3 separate regions of the Homo sapiens genome follow, and regions 2 and 3 are each linked to region 1. Evidence: fine-mapped expression QTL. A gene starts in region 1. Each other region holds a variant in brackets. All regions are shown on one strand. Distances are between the middles of the regions.

Evidence for each region. PIP is the estimated chance that this variant, and not a neighbour inherited with it, causes the effect.
Region 2: its variant is fine-mapped to the expression of ASPHD2 in whole blood (INTERVAL, PIP above 0.99).
Region 3: its variant is fine-mapped to the expression of ASPHD2 in whole blood (INTERVAL, PIP above 0.99).

What each region holds. Positions count from the first base shown.
Region 1 is chr22:26,424,508-26,432,687 of GRCh38, forward strand. ASPHD2 (aspartate beta-hydroxylase domain containing 2) reads left to right here and starts at 4,753. Exons shown (of 4, transcript NM_020437.5): 1 at 4,753-4,979. RefSeq lists silencers at 4,594-4,723, 4,844-4,903, 6,636-6,930.
Region 2 is chr22:26,462,904-26,471,083 of GRCh38, forward strand. It overlaps HPS4 (HPS4 biogenesis of lysosomal organelles complex 3 subunit 2), which reads right to left. Exons shown (of 14, transcript NM_022081.6): 7 at 7,816-7,910; 8 at 5,648-5,720; 9 at 3,323-3,359; 10 at 2,552-2,648; 11 at 1,014-1,923. Among named protein-coding and RNA genes, the nearest start is that of HPS4, 17 kb to the right of the region's middle. RefSeq lists an enhancer at 8,057-8,180. The variant A/G (reference allele first, on the strand shown) is at 4,770.
Region 3 is chr22:26,591,522-26,599,701 of GRCh38, forward strand. CRYBB1 (crystallin beta B1) reads right to left here. Exons shown (of 6, transcript NM_001887.4): 6 at 7,757-8,152. The coding sequence ends at 7,969. It also overlaps a transcript of CRYBA4 not described here. Among named protein-coding and RNA genes, the nearest start is that of TPST2, 5.5 kb to the left of the region's middle. RefSeq lists an enhancer at 1,262-1,411. The variant C/T (reference allele first, on the strand shown) is at 4,877.

The sequences.
Region 1 (8,180 bases):
CCGTGCCCGGCCTAAAATTTTCTTATATTCCCAGTTTTCTAGGAGTTTTAATCATAAATGGATGTTTGACTTCTGTCAAATGCTTTTTCTGCATCTGTTGAGATCATGGTGTCATTCTTCTCCTTTACTTTGTTAACAGAATGAATTCTATTAAAATACTTTCTGATGTTGAACAATTCTACATTCTTGAAAAATAATATTTAATGTGAATAAAATTTTTCTTTTATTTAAATTTTTTTGAGACAAGCTCTCATTATGTTGTCCAGGGTGGTCTTGAAATCCTGGTCTCAAATAATCCTCCCACCTCAGCCTCCCAAGTAGCTGAGATTACAGGTGTGAGCCACCATGCCCGGCTTTAAAAACCATTTTAATATCACAAATAACATACTAATACTTATTTGTTAAAAGTGAAACTTACTTTTTAAAAGTTAAAAGTTAAGCTATTTCCAAATATTTGCAAATGCAAAGCGTATTCCTGAAAAGATGAATAAGAAATTTGTTATAATGGCTGTCTTCACTAAAGAAAACCAACTGGTTGAGGGATAGGAGAGTGACGCGGTCCCAGTAACTTTCTGCATGTTGTTCCGGAGTATTTAAACACCTTTGAAAATATTAAATTAAAACATCACAAAAAATGCTGGAGTTTCCCTTGCCTACTGCTCCCAATTCCTTGTTCCTTCTTGGTCCCCCCTGAAGTTACAACTCTTAGGAATTTGGTGTGCTTCCTCTGAGGGATATTATCTGCATTTACAAACGTAATTATTTTGCATTTTATATAGGAGAACATACTAGTGTGTTCTTCTAGTGCTTTCCCTGCTTTTATATAAATACATGTGTATACCCACATGTGTACAGGTGCGTGTTATGTAGATAAAATCATACTACAATCATAATTCTGCTTTTTTTTTAATTTTCACCCTATTATTTTTCTAGGAGCTTTATCCACGTTGCTATATATACATCTAGCTCCTGCTTTTAGTAGCTTCACAGTATTACGTAATATGAAAAAACAACTAGTCTTCCATCTATCCCAGAATCCCTCTAGGTTAGATATAGCATAGCGAAATTGTTGGTTTCAGTGTATACATATTTGTTGTTGTTTTAAGGAATACTACCAAACTGCTCTCCAAAGTGATCATACCAGTTTCTTTAATGCACCAAGCAAGCACATCTCCCTCCCTCCCTCCCTTCTTTCTTTCCTTCCTTCCTTTCCTCCTTCCCTCTCTCCCTCCCTCCCTCTCTCTTTCTTTCTTTCTTCTTTCAGAGAGTTTTGCTCTGTTACCCAGGCTGGAATGCAGTAGTGCAATCTCAGCTCACTGCAACCTCTGCCTCCTGGGTTCAAGCAATTCTCCTGCCTCAGCCTCCAGAGTAGCTGGGACTACAGGCGTGCACCACCACACCTGTAGTTAATTAATACAAAAATTAATACAAAACTTTTTGTACTTTTAGTAGAGACAGGGTTTCAACATGTTGATCAGGATGGTCTAGGACTTCTGACTTCAGGTGATCCACTGGCCTCGGCCTCCCAAAGTGCTGGGATTACAGATGTGAGCCACCACGGCTGGCCGCAAGCACATTTTCCACTGACTTGCTGCAACCTTGATTGAGCAAGGCATGTTTTCTCTCTGGGCTTCCATCTGTAGGAGGAGGGAGTTGAGTGGACCCCGTGAGTGTATGAGACGGTGTAATGATAGGTTGTGTAGTCTCGGAGTGGGTAGGATGACTGCGCTAAAGAAGGCAGCGAGAGCAGGAGGATGCAGGTGGCAGCCAAGCTGAAGGCAGGCAATTCAGATGCCCTTGGTCCTCCTCTCCGCCTCTCCATGAGCACAGTAACAATTTATCTGGAGCTCTCACCCAAAATCCCCCTCTGAAAGGCATGGATATCCTTTTCTGCAGAATTCACCTAGTAGGGTCTCCAAGGGGTTGACAGAGGCCCAGGTCATTTCCATTTATTGAGACTCCCAGCTAATTAAAAAGATGAAGAAATGGTAAGCAGGGCTAACAAAATTGCGTGTATAGTAATATTGCCATTGAACAAATAAATACTAACAAATGCAGAGCAGTGGTCTACAGATATCATATAATTGCACTGGTCAAGGACACTTATAGGATTGATAGACAATATTAATTCATAATACAGTACAGATAAGATGGTGCAGGAATGGAACACATATTTACAATATAAAAATATCTTTTTTTTTTCAAACCTGCCAGGATAATGCTGTGATAGAATGTATGACTGCCTTTGGAGAATTCTAAGTTTGAGCAACTTTCTGAATGTGAGATGAGTCAAATACCCCCCACTCCATTTTCTCCACCCCACCCAGGCTCAACCACTCTTAGGCTGACAGTGAAGACAGACATCCCATTTAATGTTTCTAAATCTGATGCCTGTGTTGATTATCCACACTTTGAGCAAATCTGTGCATATTATGGTTTCCCAATGCAAGTGTTTTGGTTTATTTTAGTAGAATAAAAGAGAAAAAACATTCTTCCTCTTTTGGAGTTGAGAAAAGGAGAGAAATGACAGAGATGAAGAAGAGTCTAAGACATGGAAGAGGTGTATTCTGGGACATGGGAGAGGTGTACTCTGGGACATGGAAGAAGTGGGTTCTGGGACATGACAAACTGGGTTCTGGAACAGGGAGGAGGTGGATTTTAGGCTATCACAGTAGAGGCAGATTCTTAGGTCAGGGACCAGGTGGATTTTGGGACAGAGATGAGAGGTGGGTTCTGGGACATGGTGGAGGTGGGCTCTGGGACAGGGAGGAGGTACATTCTGGAACAGGGTGAAGGTGGCTTCTGGAACAGGGAGGAGGTGGGTACTGGGACAGGGTGGAGGTGGGTCTTGGAACAGGGAGGAGGTGAGTTCTGGAACAGGGTGGAAGTGAGTTCTGGAACAGAGAGGGGGTGGGTCCTGGAACAGGGAGGAGGTGGGTTCTGGCACAGGGTGGAGGTGGGTCCTGGGACAGGGAGGAGGTGGGTCCTGGGACAGGGAGGAGGTGAGTTCTGGAACAGGGTGGAGGTGAGTTCTGGAACAGAGAGGGGGTGGGTCCTGGAACAGGGAGGAGGTGGGTTCTGGCACAGGGTGGAGGTGGGTCCTGGGACAGGGAGGAGGTGGGTCCTGGGACAGGGAGGAGGTGAGTTCTGGAACAGGGTGGAGGTGAGTTCTGGAACAGAGAGGGGGTGGGTCCTGGAACAGGGAGGAGGTGGGTTCTGGCACAGGGTGGAGGTGGGTCCTGGGACAGGGAGGAGGTGGGTCCTGGGACAGGGAGGAAGTGCGTTCTGGAAGAGGGAGGAGGTGCGTTCTGGAAGAGGGAGGAGGTGGGTTCTGGAAGAGGGAGGAGGTGGGTTCTAGAAGAGAGAGGAGGTGGGTTCTGTAGCAGGAAGGAGGTAGGTTCTGGCACAGGGTGAAGGTGGGTCCTGGGACAGGGAGTAGGTGGGTTCTGGAACAGGAAGGAGGTATGTTCTGGAACAGGGTGAAGGTGGCTTCTGGAATAGGGAGGAGGTGGGCTCTGGGACAGGGTGGAGGTGGGTCCTGGGACAGGGAGGAGGTGGGTCCTGGGACAGGGTGGAAGTGGGTCCTGGGACAGAAAGAAGGTAGGTTCTGGAAGAGGGAGGAGGTGGGCTCTGGAAGAGGGAGGAGGTGGGTTCTGGAAGAGGGAGGAGGTGGGTTCTGTAACAGGAAGGAGGTGAGTTCTGGCACAGGGTGGAGGTGGGTCCTGGGACAGGGAGGGAGGTGGGTTCTGGAACAGGAAGGAGGTACGTTCTGGAACAGGGTGAAGGTGGCTTCTGGAATAGGGATGAGAAATGGATTCTGGGACAGACATGAGGTGGCTTCTGGGCCATGTTAGAGATAAATTCTGGGACACAAGAGAGGTGGGTCTGGGACAGAGACAGATGGATTGTGGGCGGGCCATCCTACTCTATGCTCCCAGAACCCACCCATGCAGTTTCCCTGGCGCCCCTAACACATCCCGTAGCCACTGTTAGTCTCCCCCAGGTCTTAGCTCAAACGTCACCTCCTCCAAGCAGCCTCCTTGGGGCCTCCATTCGCAGCTCATCAGTCCCCTGGTCAGACAACCGTCCTGCCTGTACTTCCCCTCCTAAACCCTACCCGGGGGTGAGGGTCCCCTCCCGCTAGACGGTGGCTCACTGAGGGCAGGGCGGGCCTGAGCGCTCACCGCGCACGCTCAGCGCAGCTGGCAGGGACGGGGACCCAGGCTGGCCCATCATTACTGTACTGAGCGAATGAGTTTTCCATGAGACTAAGAATCTGGTTTGATTTGCGGTTCCATTCCAAGTGCCTGAGGGCCTCAGAAGTCCGTGTTGAGTCCATCAATAAAGGAAAGAAGGCGTTAGGGCGAGAGGAAGTGAGGTGGGGGGGAAGTGAAAGAGAATGAAAAGGAGGAAATGGAGACGAGGGCGACTCAGAGAGGAACAGAGAGACAGAGGGAGGGAGAACTGAGAAAGACACAGAGCGAAAAACGAAAGAGCGAAGGAAGCGACGCGAGCCTTTCTTAATGAATGACTGCACGCCCGTCGCCGCCTGCGCGCAACCTCGGGCTGGGCGGGCGCTGCGTCTCGGGGCGCACTGCCAGGACCCTCCGGAGCGGCGGCGGGCGCGGCCTCGGGTCGCCTCCCGCACTGCGAGCGCAGGTGCCGGGTGCAGGGGGGTCCCCGGCCCCGCCCCGCAGGCCCCGCCCCCCCGTACCCCCTCCCCCGGCGGCCCAGCGCGCGCGGCATTGTGGGAGTTGTGGTCTTCGCGGCCCCGCGGAGCGCAGCGCGGCGTCGGCACCGGCAGGGGCACCGGCGCGGCTTAGGCTCGGGCTCGGGCTCCGGCTCGGGCTCCCGCGGCGTGGGCTGGGCAGCAGCCAGGCGGCGGCTCCGCGGCGCCGGGCAGGGGCCGTCCGCGGGTCCGCGCCCTCGGGCGGCGGCGTCTCCTGGGTCCCGGCAGCCGTCCGCGCGCCCGGGCGCAGGTAAGCTTCGTCTCCGGGGGCTGCCGGGGCGGGAGGGCGGCGCGGCTGGGCCGACCCCAGGACAGGGGTTGGAGGCGGGAGCCCGGCAGCTGCAGGCCCACGGCCCTCCCTTACCGGCGCCGCCGCCGCCGCCGCCCCCGCCGAGGATGCTCCGGGACCCGGGCGCCCGCATCCCGGCCCGGCCGAGGCCAGTGCTCGTACGTGCTAAGCGCCGCCGCCTCGGAGCCGGGCATCACCCTCCCTAGACCTCCTCCTACTCCTCTTCCCTGCCCCATCGTGGTCCCTTCCTCCATCTCCCTTCTCCCCTGTGACCCCTCTTTCCTCACCTCCTGTCCCCTCCCCCAGCCCTCAGCATCACCCACTTCCCATATTTCACGTGGTGACCCTCCTCCCCTGTCCCACGAATTATGAGGCGCCATAAACCTCCTTCCACAATCTTGAGCTGATCGTCCACTTTTCCGGGCAACACTCACCTTTCCATCGTCCCATCCCCCTCCTCCCCTGACCTCCTGGTGGTCACCATCTGTGCTAACCCATCTTCAGCCCTCCCCTCTTTCCCACTCTCCAGGGCAGGTGGGTGCTGAGAAGCTGGCCAAGAGAGGGAAGGTCCCCAGGTCTGCACCGGGAAGGGCTGGCCCCACGGCATCTCTCTGGCTCCTGAGTGGAGAGGGTGACAGGCATCACACACCTTGCCCAGTGCTGCTCACTGGGGGGCTTCCAGGGTGACTTGGCCTCATCCTGAGGGTGAGCAGACACTCTTTGGCATTAGGCAGCCTCTGGGAATGGACATCTGAACTAGGCTGACCAGGTCAGGCCTGACACCGGCTCTCCCAGGTGTTCATGGTGTGAGAAGTTGTCTTGGATTGGACTTGCTCTCCAACTGGCCATGGATTTGGACTCAATTCCCCAGAGCCAACTGAGCTGGAAGATCTGGGGTTGCTTATTATTAAAGTGCAGAGCTGCAATGAGATGTCCCCATCCCTGATGAGGACAGAAATAACACAGATGACAATGAACAGATGTGCGAAGGAAGCTGGAAGCTACTGTGGTCACTGGGCAAGGAGCTGTCGGGGGAGAGAGTCTCTCCTCTCCCCACTGGGTAGATGGGGAGTTGTCACTAGGTAGCTGTGAGGATCAAATGTTTGAAGCAGTGCTTAATAAACTGCCAGTCACTCTGCAAATGTGTTTCTTTTATTGTCATAGTTCAGCTTTGAGCTTGTAAATCCACCTCCGGGTGCAGGGGCCTGTTGGCATATTTTGGCTAAAAGTGACTGACAGGTATGAAAAGTCCTAACTTGAGCTCTCAGTGCTATTTATGATCTCGGGAGGAGGGTCTGAAGCTGGGGTTCAGAATCTTTTACATTCTTTTGCTTACAGCTCAGCCTTAGGGAGGGCTCATGGCTGGCTTAGTACAGAAGGAGGCTTTCCTGAGAAGAGTACAGGGCTGGGGTGTCCAGTGGAGAGGTTTCTCCATCATCCACCCTGTTTTCTGTGTCTGCATTTTGCTTGACTTAAGTGATCAGCAGGGCTGATGGGAACTAACACTTTACAGGTGCTTGTTAAATTATCACCGTCTCACTCTTAGAACATTTAAGAAAAAAACCTTTCCTCCTGACAGACTCAGTTGAAAAGTTCCAGTAGGGGTTTAGCTCAGTGATGGGGGAAATCCTTTTAGTAAAAGTGCTTGGTGTCACATAGATGATTGTTTCACACTGAATTTCAGGAACTCTGAGGTTCTGTTTGGGAGATGGCTTGCAAACAAAACATCTTTCATCTGGATTTTCTTTCCTTTTCCTAAAGAGTAACAGCTGCCAGTTTATGGTCTAACAAGGAGAGAAACAGGGGGCTGAAGGGGTTTCTTAACCTCCAGTGAGTCATAGCCTTTTCCTCTTCTCCTGAATCTGAGAAGAAATTGAGAATGTGTGGGAAAGAAAAAAAAAAAAAAACAAAAGAAAACAAAAAACAACTTAGCTTCTAACCTCCCCACTCTTGTATTTTTCCTAGAAACATAAAAAATTTCCATGAATATTCAGCATGTGTGTTTTTGACTTACTAAACATTATAGTCAAGTGATTATTCAACCGAAACTGGGAAAAAGCAAGTAGGCAGTTAATGAGCACCTAAGGTTTCCCTTTCATTTTTAGCTTAGCAAGTCTGGGGACAAAAAAGCCACTCAATACATGAGGCAACAAGAGTGTCCAGGATTTACCTTTAACTGTTGGAATTCCGAGTCTTGCTATACCTTTCTCTCGTGCCCCACCTTTGGAACGCTGGCTACTCATTATGGGATGCCACCCATCCTAGCCGTCGCCTGCATATATTGGGTGCTCATTATGACGTGGTCGTAAGTGCTGTCCATCCGCCATCATTCATCTTCATCCAGTGAGATGAACACGAACCCCATTTCATGGATAAAGAAACTGAGGCAGCCAGGCGCAGTGGCTCACGCCTGTAATCCCAACACTTTGGGAGGCTGAGGTGGACGGATCACCTGAGATTGGGATTTCAAGACCAGCCTGACCAACATGGAAAAACCCCATCTCTACTAAAAATACAAAATTAGCTGGGTGTGATGGCGCATGCCTGTAATCCCAGCTACTCAGGAGGCTGAGATAGGAGAATCACTTGAACCTGGAAGGTGGAGGTTGTGGTGAGCCAAGATTGCACCATTGCACCCCAGCCTGGGCGATAAGAGTGAAACTCCGTCTCAAAAGAAAAGAAACAGGCTTAGGAAAAGCGATCTGCCCAAGGTTGGGATGAATCCTCAACTGGGCCCATCTCTAATCTGGCTTCTCTCTGCTACGATGCTGCAAGAATTTTCAGGCCAAATTTCAGTCCCTGGGTAAAGGGAGGGTACAACTTTTCCATTTTTTAAGCTGTGAGAGGGTAGAGTACAAAAGGGATATTTGAAATTGTGCTCCCTGAGTATCAGACTTGTAGAAGCAGAGACCTGGCTGTTCTCATTGTATTAGAAGAAGCAGGATGAACAAAAGGTTTTGGAGAATGCTGGGAAACACGGCTGGGGTTTGAGAGACTTAGGCAGCATGACATTCAGGCCCTTTTAGGTTATTAGGACAATGAGAGTTCCGGGCTCTGTCCCTAACCCCCAGCTAGGTAAGTGGCAAAGCACTTCTGGCTGTTTTGGAGATGCTGTCAGCTGTGGGAAACTGAGGCAGAGGCCTGGAAGGGCTTTTATTTTCA
Region 2 (8,180 bases), 38 kb after region 1:
ATTCTCTTGCTAGGAGCTCTGTGCAAGGAAGCTGCTGTGCAGTCTTATCTCTTCTTCTGTATTTCAAGGTGACTAGCTCATTTATGGAGGGTCACAAGCCCTGCATGATAGTAAGATCAGCTTAGAATAATACACATTTAAGAATAAAAACAAGGAAAGCCCCAAGACACCATTTGCCCTGCAGCAATTTCAACCTGCTGTTCTTACTGCTACCACTTTCCCTGCCTACTAAAGCAAGGCTGTTACTATAGCAACGAATCTCCAGCGTGGGCCCCAGGGAAGGTCAGTTTACCACTCTAAGCCTCTAAGCGGGGAAGGGGCTGCAATAGTTTAAGAGCCCTCCAGAGCCAGGCAGGATTTCAGACATCCCAGCCTTCTAGGAAGGAGCTTCAGATCAGGTACGATGCTGGGGCTATGGAGGGAAACACTGGGTTTCTAGGGAACTCCCAACCCAGGCTGTGACACACTGCGGAGGAGTTTCCAGCTGACACAGAACCTAGAGCTGTCCAGGCTAGGAAATGAGGCCATGAGCAGGGGCGGCACAACACATGCACGTACGTGTGCAGTCTCTGCCTGCATTATCTCACTGCATCTGGAACAGGAAGGTCTACCACCATCCCTACGTGACTGAGGAGTTAGCCAAGGCTCAAGGGGACAAAGGTCTGTGGGCAAGTTCACACAGCTAGAGGACAAGGGCCAGGATTCCATCTCAGGCCTTCCCTTTCTCCAAGGCCTGCGCTCTGCAAAACTAGAAACAGCGGAAGAAGAGAACCAACACTTGTTGGATGCCAATGCACCACCAGTGCTATGCGCTTGACTCACTCTTACCCCCCACAAAAACCCACAGAGGCAGGTAATACCTCCATCGTCTAAACAAGAACGTCTTGCCCAGGGTCACACAACTGAGGGCTGAGCCTTTATCTCTTCCCTGGGTGTTGGCACAGTGCTGTGAGGGAAGCACAGGAGATCGGCAGAGGCCGCAGAGGGGCAGGAGAAGGTCTGAGGACACTCACCACTTCCTCTATGGCTGCGCTGTCTCCCAGCAGCGGCTCCTCAGCCAGCAGGGACAGCACCAGCCCTTTGACGCAGTGAGTGTAGAGATTCATCCTCACGAGCCCCATGCAGGACTCTGCTGGTGTCAGCCTGGAGCTGATTCCATCTGCAGAGGGGCCAGCACCCTGACAGTTTGCTGAGCCTGAACTGCATTCCAGACCAGGGGCTGCGTGGCTTTCACAGACCCCATCAACATCCTCATCCAGGCCTTGTTCCCCCGTGGGAAGCTTGTTTCCTCTCTGTCCTGGATCTAAGCGAGGCAATAACAAGGGCCTGCGGGTCCTTCTGGGGAGAGGGTCTGCTCTGGGAATGGGGGCTTGGCTGCTATGGCCAGGATGGTCTTCGAGCTGCTCTTGGGCTCCATGCTGGGTCAGCATCTCAGGAGCAGAGGGAGGGCGCAAGCTGCTGATGGCTGTGTCCTCAGGAGGCGTGGGTTCCAGGCTGCTGGAGGCGCTGAGAGATGCCTTGCAGTAAGGAGCCCTGCCATCTGGAACAGGCACATGTAGGAAGGCAAAATGACCTGAGGCCATTTCCACTTCCTGAGCCTCTGGAATGTGGATTTCAGACAAGTCGAGTTCTTCTTGGAGAAAGACTAGTTCCTTCCCCAGGGAGGAGCTGAGGCCAAGAACCTCACCCCTGGCAGAGTTGTGCAGTCCTGCGGGCCTGATGCTCTCCAGATCATGGCCAGACAAGCATCCGTTCTCCTTCCTGCCATCTGGACAAGCTTCGTCAGGGGATGTGGGATCTGGGGTGGTCCAGGCCATGGATTCCACATGGCCAGTGGCGTTTTCTTTCAGGGCAGATGTGCTCCCACCCTTTGGATGGTGCTGGGCTGAACCATCCTGGAGTCCTGCTGGAGATGCTAGAGACCTGGCAAACAAGAGAGATGTAAGGAAGGGGCACGTTGACAGACTGCAGGGCAAGTGCCCTTCCACAGTGAAGACTAAAGCACAGGCATCAAGGACAAGGGGGTGCCTGAGGCCACAGAGCCTAAGAGGCCACCAGAGTTAAATCACAAGAGTAAAAATACACCAACATCTGGCCCTTGGGGCTTTACGTAGTGACACCAGACTCACCTACTGAAAATGGCAGAGCCCACTGAATAAGACTGACCCACATCTGGAAGGTCTCCTACGCATCAGGCCCTATACTAGGTGCTGTACCTATACTATTTTCAAGTGTCACAATGAACTCATGAAAGGGATACTATTTTGTCTACTTTTCAGATGAAAAAACTGAGGCTCAGGCAGGGAATGGACTTGCCCAAGGTCCCATAGCTGGTATAAGTAAGAGAGCTGGGATATGAAAGCCAATGTCATCTCTCTATGCCACTCTGTTTCTTAACAAACTCAAGATTCAGATGCTCCTTTACAAGACAGGGCATGGGGAAGATGGAATTAAGGAACGATGGGATGTATCAGAGGTTTGTTTTTTAACCAATCACGCGATGGGGTCCCTCAGGTGTGGTGCAAGGTTAACTCTCTGTGCACTCCATTACCTTGTCATCTGTTCCACCGGGAACTCGTGGAGACTAATGGCTTCCTCTTTGGTCACAAAAACAGGGATAATCTGGACATTCGGGGGCAATGCCGCTCCTGGAATTGCAAAGCAATATGAACAGGACTTTCCCCTGAGCCAGAGAGGGCAGCGGGGCAATAGCTGCACTGGCGTGATGCATCCAACCCACACGTGGGCTCGGAAAGGGGTGCTGTGAGTGCATTCCTCAGCCAGGACACAGGTTGCCAAACTGCACCTCGAACTCCTGGGCCCAGTAAGGAAAGAGTCCCTGCAGGCAACATGACTCCCAGCTTTGGAGAAGGAAGATGTTCGGGAGAGAAAGGTTGAAAAGCACTTTTACAAGAAGAAGATATAAGCTAAGAAAGGGATCTGCTCCAACTCAGGCTTCAGAATAAATCGAAATAACTCTCCTGAGGACGCCTCCACATCCTGCAAAAGGTCTTTCTGGCAGTCGCTGTTTGCCTTACCCTCTCCCAATCACAATCTCCTGGCACTTGACCGAGCAGTCTCACAATATGAAGTTAAGGAGGGTCTGAAAGCAGGGATTTGACAGCATGCCTAAAATCATAGCTTTACCATTAGGGTTCTGGTGGGTAACTCGATTCTTGAAGCTCCATAACATCCATTTTCCTATTATGAGCAGAGGAAATAAACATGCAGATGGCTTGGTTTCCTTCGCATAACTTGTACAGGGGTAGGTAGCATAAAAGACCGCCGTTCTCAAGAGGCAACCATGCGCCTCACTACTTACCATGTTCCTGCGGGGCATCCTCTCCCGTAGGGAGTCTCTGAAAACAAACACACACAGAAGTTGGCGCTGGGCACCACATTCTCCTCTTGACCTAACCATCAGGAATTTGCTGTGCCATCTGTTCATAAAACTTAGCCAGGCCCAGAAAGCTTGTCCCAACCACATGCTAAGAGCCAAGCAGATGGAACAGAAGCTCCCCCAAGCTGCTGGCTCCCACTATGGCTGGGATGAAGCAAGAACCTGGGCCCACACAGGCTGCAAGGCAGCAGCTCCACCCAAACTCACATCACACTCTACGTTCTGATTTTCTCAGTCTCTCTCCCTTCTGGGAATAAAATTGAGGATTCCTGTTCTCTTTTACACCTTTGGGGAACTCATATTCTAGAATACAGTCACATCTGCCACAGCCCTGATGTAGAATTCACATAAATTCCATTATAATAAAAATGTCAAAATACTGTGACTCTCACGATAAAGGATTTGACTTAAACAAAATGCTATACCCAATCTCTCGTTTGTTCTGGTTCACAATCAGGGCCTAAAACCTGATGATTTTCTCAAAAATGAAAACATCTCTCGTTTCAATCTGAGGGTTCCAAAAGAACCCACCAAAACAAAACCAAACCAAACAAGAACTGCTCTTCTAGCCAAAATGACTTTCAATCTTAGAATGATATGGTGTTCTTCCTTTTTTGGTGATTTTTAAAAAACTATGTTTTAGATTACTAAGCCTAACCTCAATTTACTCTAGACAAAGCGTTGAAAAAAAAAATCACATACAATCCCTCATCCCCAAGCTAGTACTATTAATATTGGGTATTTTTTCCTTAAGCCTATGCAGTTTTTATACTTTTGAGGCCACACTATATAAAATTTCATATTTCTGCTTAAAACAGTAACACGCATTTCCTGCCACTAAAACATCTTTGGCCATTTTAAACGGCTGATTAAAATTTTATGAAGGTTTAAGTGATATGAGTAAATTAATCATTTACCTACCTTAGACCAGTAATTAGTAAACTTTCTGTGCAAAAGACAAGACAGTAAATATTTTTGGCTTTGCAGGGCATATGGTCTCTGTCCCACCTACTTGGTTCTGCTATTATAGCTCAAAAGCAGCCAAATAAAACTTCATTTGTAGGCAGGTGGCCCACAGGCCATAATTTGCCACCTCCTACTTTAAGCATTCAAGTTTTGTCTGATTTTTCACTTTCATAAAGCTTGTTGTGATCAAGTTTTGAGTATAAATTTTTTTCAGCAGTTACATTATTTCCTTAAGATATATTCCTAGAAGTCAAATTATTAGGAAAAAAATAAAGGGCATCCTTAACGTTCTCATTATCAAAGTGTTTCCCAGAAAGGCTACTTGAATTGACACCCATAGCCACAGTGGCTGAGGAGGCTGAATAGAGCCCTACCAGCATTTTACATGCCTGTTCACTAATAC[A/G]TGTAAAAAGACAGCCTCATGATACGCTGGAAACCACAGCTTCATACACAAAACAAAAAAAGGACTGGAAGGAGATATGCCAGATGCTGGCAGTGGCTATCCCTGTACAGTTCAAAGATGGGCAATTTTATTCTCAATGAGCATGCATGGCTTTTTTTTCAATATAAAAACAATTAAATAAATATAAAATGGAAGTATTTTAGAAGAGTTTGTTTTCCTTATTTTTTTATTTTTATTTTTATTTTTTGAGACAGAGTCTCACTCTTGCTACCCAGGCTGGAGTGCAGTGGCGCGATCTCAGCTCACCTCAACCTCTGCCTGCCAGGTTCAAGCGATTCTCCTGCCTCAGCCTCCCAAGTAGCTGGGATTTACAGGTGTGCACCACCACACCCAGCTAATTTTTGTATTTTAAATAGAGATGGGTTTCATCATGTTGGCCAGGCTGGTCTTGAACTCCTCACCTCAAGTGATCTGCCCACCTCAGCCACCCAAAGTGCTGGGATTACAGGTGTGAACCACCGTGCCCAACCCCCTAAATCTTTCTAAAGACACATCCTTTACAGTCTGTCTCTGAAAAGTCTAACATCTCTTTGACATAAAGAGACATCAAATTCTTATGGGAAGTCGAATTCAACCAAGATTTCCTTGGTTTGAAGAAAAAACAACTATCCAGGCCTAGCTCGTGGAAGAAAACATTTTCTTTCAGCCTCACCAATGGCTTCACTACTGAGGAGAATGACATTGGAGGACTTGGGGTCCTGACAAGACCAAGTGAAACAACTGCTCCACGGCCTCTGCTCCTGATCCCTCCAGCCTCAGGCTCAGTGACCAGTGCTCTGGGGGATGCTGTCCAGCCAGGTGGGTGGACTTTACAATACCTGCTCCTGAGGTGCTGTTCGGTGAAGCAGGACCTTGGCGGTGAGGGAGGGCGGGAGTTGGGTGCTGACAATCCTAGGAGGTCACACACAGAACAAGAACACCATGAGACGAAATACACCAAAACACTCCAAATTTTAAAGATGCCTAACAGCCCGTGTTGACGAGGATCTTGGGGACTTGGCTGGTGGGAGTTTCAACTGGTAAAACCCTTACAGAGGGCACTCTGGCAGTTCCTACCAACATTTAAAATATCCAAACCCTTTGACTCAGCTTGTACCAAGATGTATGCGTAAGAATATTCATTACAGGGAGAATGGTAAAAACAATTAAAAAATGAGTAAACCACCAAAATGTTCATCAACAAGACAGTAAAGCACAACACAGCCAGAATCCCAAAAAGTATGCAGTCCTCATAAGAATGAGGTAGACCCATATGAACCGGTAAGGAAATCTTCACTGTATGCGTTGAGAAACCATGTGATCCTATTTAAGGAGATAGCAAAAATAAACAAAAGCAATATATGCATACATGTACCAGTGGGGACAAACACACAGAAAGAGCAAGATGCCCACCAAACTGCCAATGGTGAGGACAGGTTAAGAGTGAGGGAGAGGCTGGGCACAGTGGCTTACTCCTGCAATCACAGCACTTTGGGAGGCTGAGGTGGGAGAATAACTTGAGCTTAGGAGTTTGAGACCTCCATGAGCAACATAGTGAGATCCCATCTCTACAAAAAAAAAAAAAAAAAAAATCAAAAGCTTGGCCAGGTGTGGTAGCAAGTGCTTGTTGTTCCAGCTACGTGGGAGGATCACTTGAGTCCAAGAGGTCGAGGCTGTAGTAAGCTGTGTTTATGCCACTACACTACAGCCTGGGCAACAAAGCAAGACTGTGTCTCAAAAACAAACAAACAAAAATGGTGAAGAAAGAAGGGGGGCTTTTAAATTGTGCTCTGTGTGTTCCTCTATTGATTGATTTGTTTACAGTGAAAATGTATTCATGTATTAGCCGTATAATGTAAATACAGGCTGGGTGCAGTGGCTTATGTCTATAATCCAAGCAGTTTGGGAAGCTGAGGATCGCTTGAAGCCAGGTGTTTGAGACCAGCCTGGGCAACATAGCAAGACCTCGTCCCTACAAAAAAAAAAAAAAGAAAAAAAAATATATATATATACATTTAAGAAATGCAAAATGAGAAAAGGGGAAAAAAAATACTGTCTTTGGTGGGTATGTCACTGACGAACTTGGAAATCCCACAGCTGATTCAGAACCATCATGATAAGAACCGGGGCAAGGAAGAAGAGTGCAAAGCCCACCAGGGTCTATGCTCGGTTCTTCCGCATCTGTCATCTCATTTCATTCTTCACAAGGGATGTCTATTTCCCAGAAGAGAAAATTGAGGCTAAGCAACTTGCCCAAGGCCGCATGGCTGGCGAAAGAAGGGAGGATCTGGGGCCGAGCCTGTCTGGCCCAAGGGCCCCTGCGAGAGCCTCAGTGCTTCTCCATTTACACAGTAGTTGCCTGCTCCTCAGGAAGCTCCGGGCACAGCGCAATGGCCCTGCCTGCCCTGGGCTGTGACAGCAAACCCTCCATGAGGAGAGAGGCCTTAGATGACCTAGAGTGGCTCTTGGGCACTCAGATTCACCAAGAAGCCCTCCAACTACATGAAGAAGTGAAGTGAATTCTCAGAGGCCAACCAAGACACTGGCCCAGCCAAGAGGCTTGAAGGCAGCTGGATAAGGGCCTGTAAGGCTGCTTTGCAGAGCTGAGCTGAGGCAAGCACACCAGGGTCTCTGGGCAGCAGGAGGAGGGTCACAGCAGGCCCCTTCCATGCCTCTTGACTACAGTGCTGGCTGCTGGCAACGCTCGGGACTCTGCATTAGCATTTTGCAGACTGACAACTATTCCAGCATGCCCCATACTGAGAATTATAGGGACATTCTTAACTCTTTTCTGAACACAACTATTTCCAATTTCTCAGCTTTGCTCAAAGACAGGTACACACCTGTCTTTCTAAACTGAGTCAAATCTAAACTACCTGATATTTGCCGAACCAGCCCACTTGGAACTGGCCAGAGACTGGGCTCCCCACTGTGATCTGGAGGTGGCTGATGGTCAGTTGTGCAGCAAGGGAATGGGGCTGGAAGAAAGGGGTCTGGAGTTACTCACAGTCCTTTATAGAGGATGCAGCCAGCGAGAATGTGAGGCGAGCGCTGGCAGGTCTGCAGAATGCGGGCTGCCTTCAGCAACAACAGGGGCTCCACCTGTGCAGGGCAAGAGGCATCATGCCCACCCATCAGCATGCTCACAATCAGGAAGGGAGAAAAGGGGAAAGGGTTGTACAGAACAGCTGGACAGGGTGTAGCTCAAAGCCTGGAAAAGGAGAATGTGTCACACAGTGAAAGCTGTGCCATGGCTTGGGACTATTCTACCTCTCTATACTCAGAACTGCTGACACCACTAAATGCCAAATTCTTAGAACAAGGAGGCCTGTCCAGAAGCTAGAAGGTGCAGCAAATATGGCATATGGCTAT
Region 3 (8,180 bases), 170 kb after region 1:
CACCAGGTCAGGAATCCAAGACCAGCCTGACCAATATGGTGAAACCCTGTTTCTACTAAAAATACAAAAATTAGCTGGGCATGGTGGTGCATGCCTGTAGTCCCAGCTACTCAGGAGGCTGAGGCAGAAGAATCGCTTGAACCCAGGAGGTGGAGGTTGCAGTGAGCCAAGATCGCACCACTGCACTCCCACCTGGGCGACAGAGTGAGACTCCGTCTCAAAAAAAAAAAAAAAAAATGAGCAGGGCATGGTGCTGCTCACCTGTAATTCCCCCTACTTGGGAGGCTGAGGCACGAGAATTGCTTGAACCCAGGAGGCAGAGGTTACAGTGAGTGTAGATCGCACCACTGCACTCCATCCTGGGTGAGTACACACACACACACACACACACACACACACACACACACAGAAACTAGGGCACACAGATATTAAGTAATTTGCCCATGGCCAGCCACATGTTCATTCATTGGTCATTCATTAATTCATTCATGTGTCCAATAAATAGTTAGTGCTTGCCTTATGGAAAATGCTGGGACTGATAAAGCTGCCTCCATGGAGCCAGCCATTACTGGTCTGGAAACAATACAACAACATTACATAGTGTTTATTGCGTGCATGTTAGAGACTTCATATGACTGATTTGATAGACACATAGATTAAACACCAGCAGGGTGTTTTATAATGTCCTTTTGTGGATGAAAAAAATGGAGTTCAGAGGAAGAGGTGTGAATGGGGGCATTTGTTTAATAACATTCTAGCAATGGCATTTCCTGAGCTCTCTATGCTAGGCACAGATTCAGCAGCTAACAGGGGGACAAAGGTCCAAGTTGGGGAAGCTAGATCCTTCAACAAGCCTTCACAGTAAAGTGAGCACCTGTAACTGATGAGGCAGGAGCAGCAGAGATTAACCTGGTCCAGGGAGGGAGGGCCAGGCGTGTGTATACATGCCAGAGGCATGGGTGGGGATCCTTGGAAGAGTGCACTGGTCACAGAATCTAGCAGGTGCAAAGGCCTAGCAGGAAGGAAGCGAGCCTGGGGCCTTGCATGAAGTGCAGAGTGGACAGGATGTGGTGGAGGTGAGAGAAGAGATCAGAGGTGTCTGCAGGGCTGGATGCTGCAGAGCTTTGTGGGCTGTGGGAAGGAGTCGGGGCTTTTCTCTTGCAGTGATGGAGAGACAGGGAAGGTGTTCAACAGGGGAAGGGCATGGGGAGCCTGACTTTCTGCAAAGATCCCTCTGGTGCTGTGTGAAGAAGAAACAGGCAGAAACTGGTTTGGAGGGTGTTGAAATAATTCAGGAACCCAGAGAGGGGATGTGGGCATGGAGGGGGTGTTTTGGTTCCGGAGAGGTTTGGAAGACAGAATTGGCAGATCTCAGTTGAGAGGCTAAGGAGGAGGATCAGAATGATCGTCTTGTTGTCTAGGTTGGGACTTCTCTCAGTACCCCTAGCTCAGTGAACCTTTCCAGGTCTCAATCTGTCTGTCACCTCCTTGAGGAAGGCTAATTGCCCCTCAGGACATCGTGGTGGACCAGACACCAGACTGTGCAGCCCAGGAATTTGATGTGACTTTGAAGGCAGACAAAATAATTCATTCCTCCTGTCTGCATCTTCAGCCGGGAACACCTAGAGCAGATACCTCTTCTGTCTTCCTCCCCAACCTATCTTCCCAGCATCTAGGCAAAACCCAGTACTTAAGAGGTTTTATCAAAAGCAGGAAGAATATTTATCAAAAGCAGGAAGAATAGATGTAGCATAATACACATTGATCCAAAAATTCTTTCCAGCTCTGACATTCAAGAGGATGAGGTTGATGTTATGTCAATAATTACACTTTAGGCCAGGCTCAATGGCTCACTCCTGTAATTCCAGCACTGTGGGAGGCTGAAGAGGGAGGATAGCTTGAACCCAGGAGATTGAGACCAGCCTGGGCAACATGGTGAGACCTTGTCTCTACTTTTTTTTTTTAATTAAAATTTTTTTAAAAACCATTTTATTTATTTTTATTTTATTTATTTATTTCTTTGAGACAGAGTCTCACTCTGTTGCCCAGGCTGGAGTACAGTGGTGTGATCTCGGCTCACTGCAACCTCCGCCTCCTGGGTCCAAGCAGTCCTCCTGCTTCAGCCTATTGAGTATCTGGGATTACAAGCATGCGCCAATATGCCTGGCTAATTTTTGTATTTGGAGTAGAGATGGGATTTCTTCATGTTGGCCAGGCTCGTCTCCAACTCCTGACCTCAAGTGATCCACCTGTCTTGGACTCCCAAAGTGCTGGGATTACAAGTGTGAGCCACCATGCCCAACCACAGAAAACACTTTATTCAGGTGCTTGCTATGTGCTAAACACCTTATAATTATTATATTCAAGCTGATCATTTACCCTCTCCAAGCTTTTGGTGTTTTATTATCATTACTCCCATTTTACAGATGTGGAAACAGAGGCTCCAGCAGGTAATTTGATTTGGCCAAGGATAATAGCTGGTAATTGTCAGAGCTGGAATGCAAACTCAGGTCTCTCTCACCCTTTCTAGTACACTGATAGAAGGCAGTGGCTCGGCAGTGGGCAGGAAGTAAAAGTAAGTGGGCAGGTTTTCTTCTCCTGCTGGAAGGGTGTAGTATTATTGTTCCTAGCTGGGGATCCAGGCTTCACAAAGCATTCGTTGATCCTAAGTATCTGACCCAGGCTATTGGCTGTCGTGGCAGTTTGGCTCTAAGAAGGCTCATCTCTTTAGAACCTCTGCAGGGCACCCTGGAACCATGTCTTTTCCCCAGAGCCCAGTTGCTGTGTATTTATCAGCATCTCATGCTGGCACAAAAGCATTCAATGCCTCTGGGTGATCCTCCTGCCTCCACCCCACATATACACACTGCCGGCGTTGGGCTTATGCTCCAATGTCTAAAAGATTACGGGTTGCCTCTTGTCGATGAGAATGAGAGCCGCTCTCTCATAATCAAGATGCTTTGCCTTTCCAAAGGCCTGAGACTCAAAGATTCACAAGCTGGGATCTATCTAGCTTTGAAACAATATGAAGTCCCCAGTTTCCTCAGGCATTGTATTTTAAAGCCAGTGCTTAGGGACACTCCTGCTTGAACCCGGGAGGTGGAGGTTGTGGTGGGCTGAGATTGCGCCACTGCACTCCAGCCTGGGCGATAGAGTGAGACTCTAGCTAAAACAAAAAACAAAAAACAAAAACCAAAACAAACAAACAAAAAGCCAGCATTTAGAGCCAAACCCATGCAGTCAAAATTGCCTTGGAGAAGCCCCCGAAAAGGCTGAAGGCAACATAGCCCCTTGGAAGTCCAGCTTCACTGGTTTCCGTCAATATTAAACTTGGACTCATCATGATTTCTGGGGTTGAGCACCTGATGAAATGAAACCTTAGTTTTAGTTTGAAGGCAAAAGTGTGGCTTATCTTTAAGCTCTGAAATTCTGCTCCAGGTGGTGAGATGCTCATGTTTTGAGAGATATGTTGAAACTAGGACCCATGGAAGGAACACCAGGTTTATGGTTCCTAAGTCACACTCACTCTCAGCCTTACTACATGTTATTTTCTTTAACTTGCTTCTTTTAGTCTCTATTCTTTATTTTTTGCTTATAATTTTATATGTCCTCCTTTGTTATTACAAGGCATTTTGTTTATTCATAAATTCATTAGCAAACAATACATTAAATATAAAATGACTTTAATTGTTATTTTCTTCTGGTGTTTATTCTGCCAAGTGTACATATCTTGTTTCAGTGATGCTAATATGCACATTTTAAAATGCCTGTGAGGCCAGGCGCAGTGGCTTACGCCTGTAATCCCAGCACTTTGGGAGGCCGAGGCAGGAGGATCAAGTAAGGTTGGGAGTTCGAGACCAGCCTGACCAACATGGAAAAACCCCCGTCTCTACTAAAAATACAAAAAATTAGCCAGGCATGGTGGCGCATGCCTATAATCCCAGCTACTCGGGAGGCTGAGGCAGGAAAATCGCTTGAACCTGGGAGGCGGAGGTTGCAGTGAGCCAAGATCGGGCCATTGCACTCCAGCCTGGACAACAAGAGCAAAACTCCGTCTCAAAAAAAAAAAAAAAAATGCCTGTGAGATGAAAGTGATCCAGAAGACCTGGACTCTGTGTTTTGTTTTTAATTTTTTGTAGAGATGGGGTCTCCCTGTGTTGCCCAGGCTGGTCTCAAACTCCTGGGCTCAAGTGATCCTCCCACCTCAGCCTCCCAAAGTGCTGGGATTGCAGGCGTGAGCCACCATGTATGGCCTTGTTTTTGTTTTTAGAGACAGGGTCTTGCTCTGTTCCCCAGACTGGAGTGCAGTGGCACATTCATAGCTTACTGCTGCCTGGAACTCCTGGGCTCAAGGGATCCTCCTGCCTCAGCCTCCACAGTAGCTGGGACTACAGGCATGCACCACTGCACCCAGCTTATTTTTTATTTTTTGTAGAGGTAAGGTCTCACCATCTTGCCCAGGCTGATCTCAAATTCCTGGGCTCAAGTGATCCTCCCACCTTAGCCTTCCAAAATACTGGGATTATAGGTATAAGCCACTGTGCCAGGCCAGAATCTGGACCATCAATGCAAAGAGTTTTTATTTTATTTTATTTTTGAGATGGAAGCTTGTTCTGTCGCCCAAGCTGACATGCAGTGGCACGATCTCACTGCAACCTCCACCTCCTGGGTTCAAGCTATTCTGCTGCCTCAGCCTCCAGAGCAGCTGGGATTACAGGTGTGCACCACCATGTCCGGCTAATTTTTTATATTTTTAATAGAGATGGGGCTTCACCATGTTGACCAGGCTGGTCTCAAACTCCTGACCTTAAGTGATCCACCTGCCTCAGACTCCCAAAGTGCTGGGATTACAGGCATGAACCACTGTGCCTGGCCG[C/T]AAAGAGGTTTTAGAACTGACTTAACTGATGAATTTCTAGTATGTTTACCTTTTATAGGACTTATCAGATTGATACACTGAAAAAAAATCTGTTAAATCTAAATAAGTTGAAAATAATTCTTTCAATAAGTATAAAAATTCTGAGTGATCAGAAAACAATTGTGTTATGTTTTGATTGGTATTATTTCTCTTTTTCCTCCTGGAATTATAAAATCATAGTGCATCTTACCAACAATAAGACCTTGAAGGTAAAGAACTATGGAAGTCAATTTCAGGGGGCTCATATGACTGTGAAGATGGACTCCACTGCAGTAGAATTTTAGAGCTTTACTCACAGACCTTAAGAACTTAGAATGGGGATCCATGTGGCTTGGCTTTGGAATCAGAGAATCACAGAAGCTTAGAGATAAATATCAGAACCTTAGAGAGTCATAGAACTTTGGAACCTCAGAATCTTGGGGCTGGATGGGTATTTGAGCTGTCGTTTTATAGAAGAGAAAAACAAGTCCCAGGGAATGGATGCAATTTGCCTAGTTCTTTCCAACTTCTAACAGTACAGCAGGGTTAATACCCTTTTATTCCCGATTTCTGTCCAGGAATCCTGGTCCGCAGACAGCCCTGTCTTCTAGTCCAAGATGCTGGCCAAGAGTGTTGAGGTGGGGAGAATGAAAGTGAGATGAGGGAAGGTGAGTGAGACCTGTCCAAGATTATGTGAGGTGGTGTCTCAACTTTGAAGCTCAGCAAAACCACAGGGTGGGGTGTCATGAGGCCCTATCTTTCTTGCCAGCTTTATCTCCTGACGTACAAGTGTATCCGTCCCACCCTGTGCTTCTGCCCACACAACCACCAAGCTAATGTTCCCACCTCAATAAGCTTCACCGGGGCCCACCACAACTCTCTCAACCTCTATGCCTTTGTTCATGGTGCTCCAGGGCTGCCAAGTTCAGCTGAGCATGTTGGGCACAGCACAAGGGTATCACATTTACATGGTAGACGTCCCAGATTTATACCAATAATTTCTAACAGATGGCAGTAAAATGTCTTGAGGAAGAGACATCTTTTTATCATTTGCACAAAGGTGCCATATGGGGTAGCGGGGACACTGCTGTTTGCTCTGCCTGGAATATCATCTCCCCTATTCTCCATCAAGCAAGCTCCTGCTCCATCTTTCAAGGCCCCCTTCAGATATTCCCTCCTCCAGGAAGATATCCATAGCAACCCCGACACCCCGTTCCACCAGGCTGTCTGCATAGATTAATGATTAATAACATCAATCAATATTAACTGTTGATATGGGAAACAATAGTGTCTGGCACAGATTTCCAAATGAGATGATTCCTGATGTACCCCAGCTCCAGGATTGAGTAACACTGAATCAGATACAAGAAAACGATGCTCTTTTCAACCTTTATTGATTAAATCAAGGAGGAAAAAAGTCTCAGTTTGGTGCAAACATCTTTCACACTTTTCTTTGTTTTGTTGGTTTTTTTTCTTCTTTTTTTTTGAGGTGGAGTCTCACTCTGTCACCCAGGCTGGAGTACAGTGGCGCAATCTTGGCTCACTGCAACCTCTGCCTCCCGGTTCAAGCGATTTTCCTGCCTCAGCCTCCCAAGTAGCTGGGATTACAGGCACCCGCCACCACAGCCGGCTAATTTTTTATATTTTTGTAGAGACGGGGTTTCACCATGTTGGCCAGGCTGGTCTCGAACTCCTGACCTCAAGTGATCTGCCTGCCTCGGCCTCCCGAAGTGCTGGGATTACAGGCGTGAGCCACCGCACCCGGTCCTCTTTCACACTTTTCAACACTGGCTAATCTCCCATTTTGTCGAAGAGTGAACAGGTTGCAGGCAGTGGTATCTGCTGGAAATTTGATACTTGGCCTTCTTTAAATTGTATTTGATTTATTTATACGACTGCCTGCTTCCTTCCTTCCTTTCTCTCTCTCTCCTTTCCTTCCTTCTCTCTTTCTCTTTCTCGCTCTCTCTCTCTTTCTTTCTTTGACAGGATCTCACTCTGTTGCCCAGGCTGGAGTCCAGTGGCATGATCACGACTCACTGTAGCCTCAAATTCCCAGGCTAAAGCCTCAAGTGATCCTGCCACCTCAGTCTCCCGAATAGCTGGGATTACAGGCGCACGCCACCATGCTGGGTTAACTTTTGGAATTTTTGTAGAGATGGGGTTTCGCGATGTTGGCCAGGCTGGTCTCCAACTCCTGACTTCAAGTGATCTACCCACCTCAGCCTCCCAAAGTGTTGGGATTACAGGGGTGAGCCACCACGCCCAGCCTGTGTGATTGCTTTCTATGTATATGATGCTGATTTTCCACTTCTTGGAGCATTATAAGGATTTATTTACAAATCAGTGCATTTAAGGACAAAAAATAAGTCTATTTAAATAAAAATATGTCAAAAGTAGACCAGGTGGCATGCAGACAGTGCAAAAAATCCTGAGGGGGGATGCTCAACTGGCTACAGTTTGAAAAAAATTTATAGATTTGTCTTGAAGAGTACAGGCTCTGGAGCCAGACAGCCTGAATTCAAGTCTTGACTTGCTAACTGTGTGACCTTGGGAAAATCACTTCCCCTCTCTGAACCTCAATTTCCTCATACCAACCTCCTGGAGCAGTCTTCATAATGAGTAAGGCCAAGTACTTGTCCTCCACCCCAACACATCCATTCAGGACCCAGAAACCAACCTGCCTCCTCTGACCTGCTGCACGAATGCCCTGGCTGGACCATCTCTTACCTAGTATCCTTGGACAGCATCTCACAGGTGTATCTGGGTTTCCCCTGCTAGGTGGAGCAAACTCCTTGACGGCAGGAACTTGGCCTTATTCATTTCTGCCTACACATTTGGTAGACTCACATAACAGGCAGAAAGAACTTTTCAGTGTTTGCTGCTTTTATTATCGTTGTAATTATTAAGAGCGAGGAAGTCACATCCCAGTAACTATGGGGGACCTCAAGGCACACATCTGTTTACAGATCCAGGAGAAATTTTGGCTTTAGGGAATTTTATTTGCCTGGGAAAAATGGGGGAAATAATTGAACATGAAGAAGGGTTGGGGCAAGGTAGCAGAGTGAGGTGTGGACTCACTTGGGGGGCTCTGTGGCCAGGACAGGGAAGGACCCCTCGAGGTGCCACTGCTTGTCACGCAGGCGACGCAGGGACTGCATCTGTGGCTGGAAGGCTCCCCACTCATTCCAGTGCCGGAAGTCACCAGGCTCTAGGAGGTACTGGTACCCGCGGTAGCCAGGATACTGATAGCCAACCCATCTGAGAGAAAAGTGAGAAGGACAGAGTG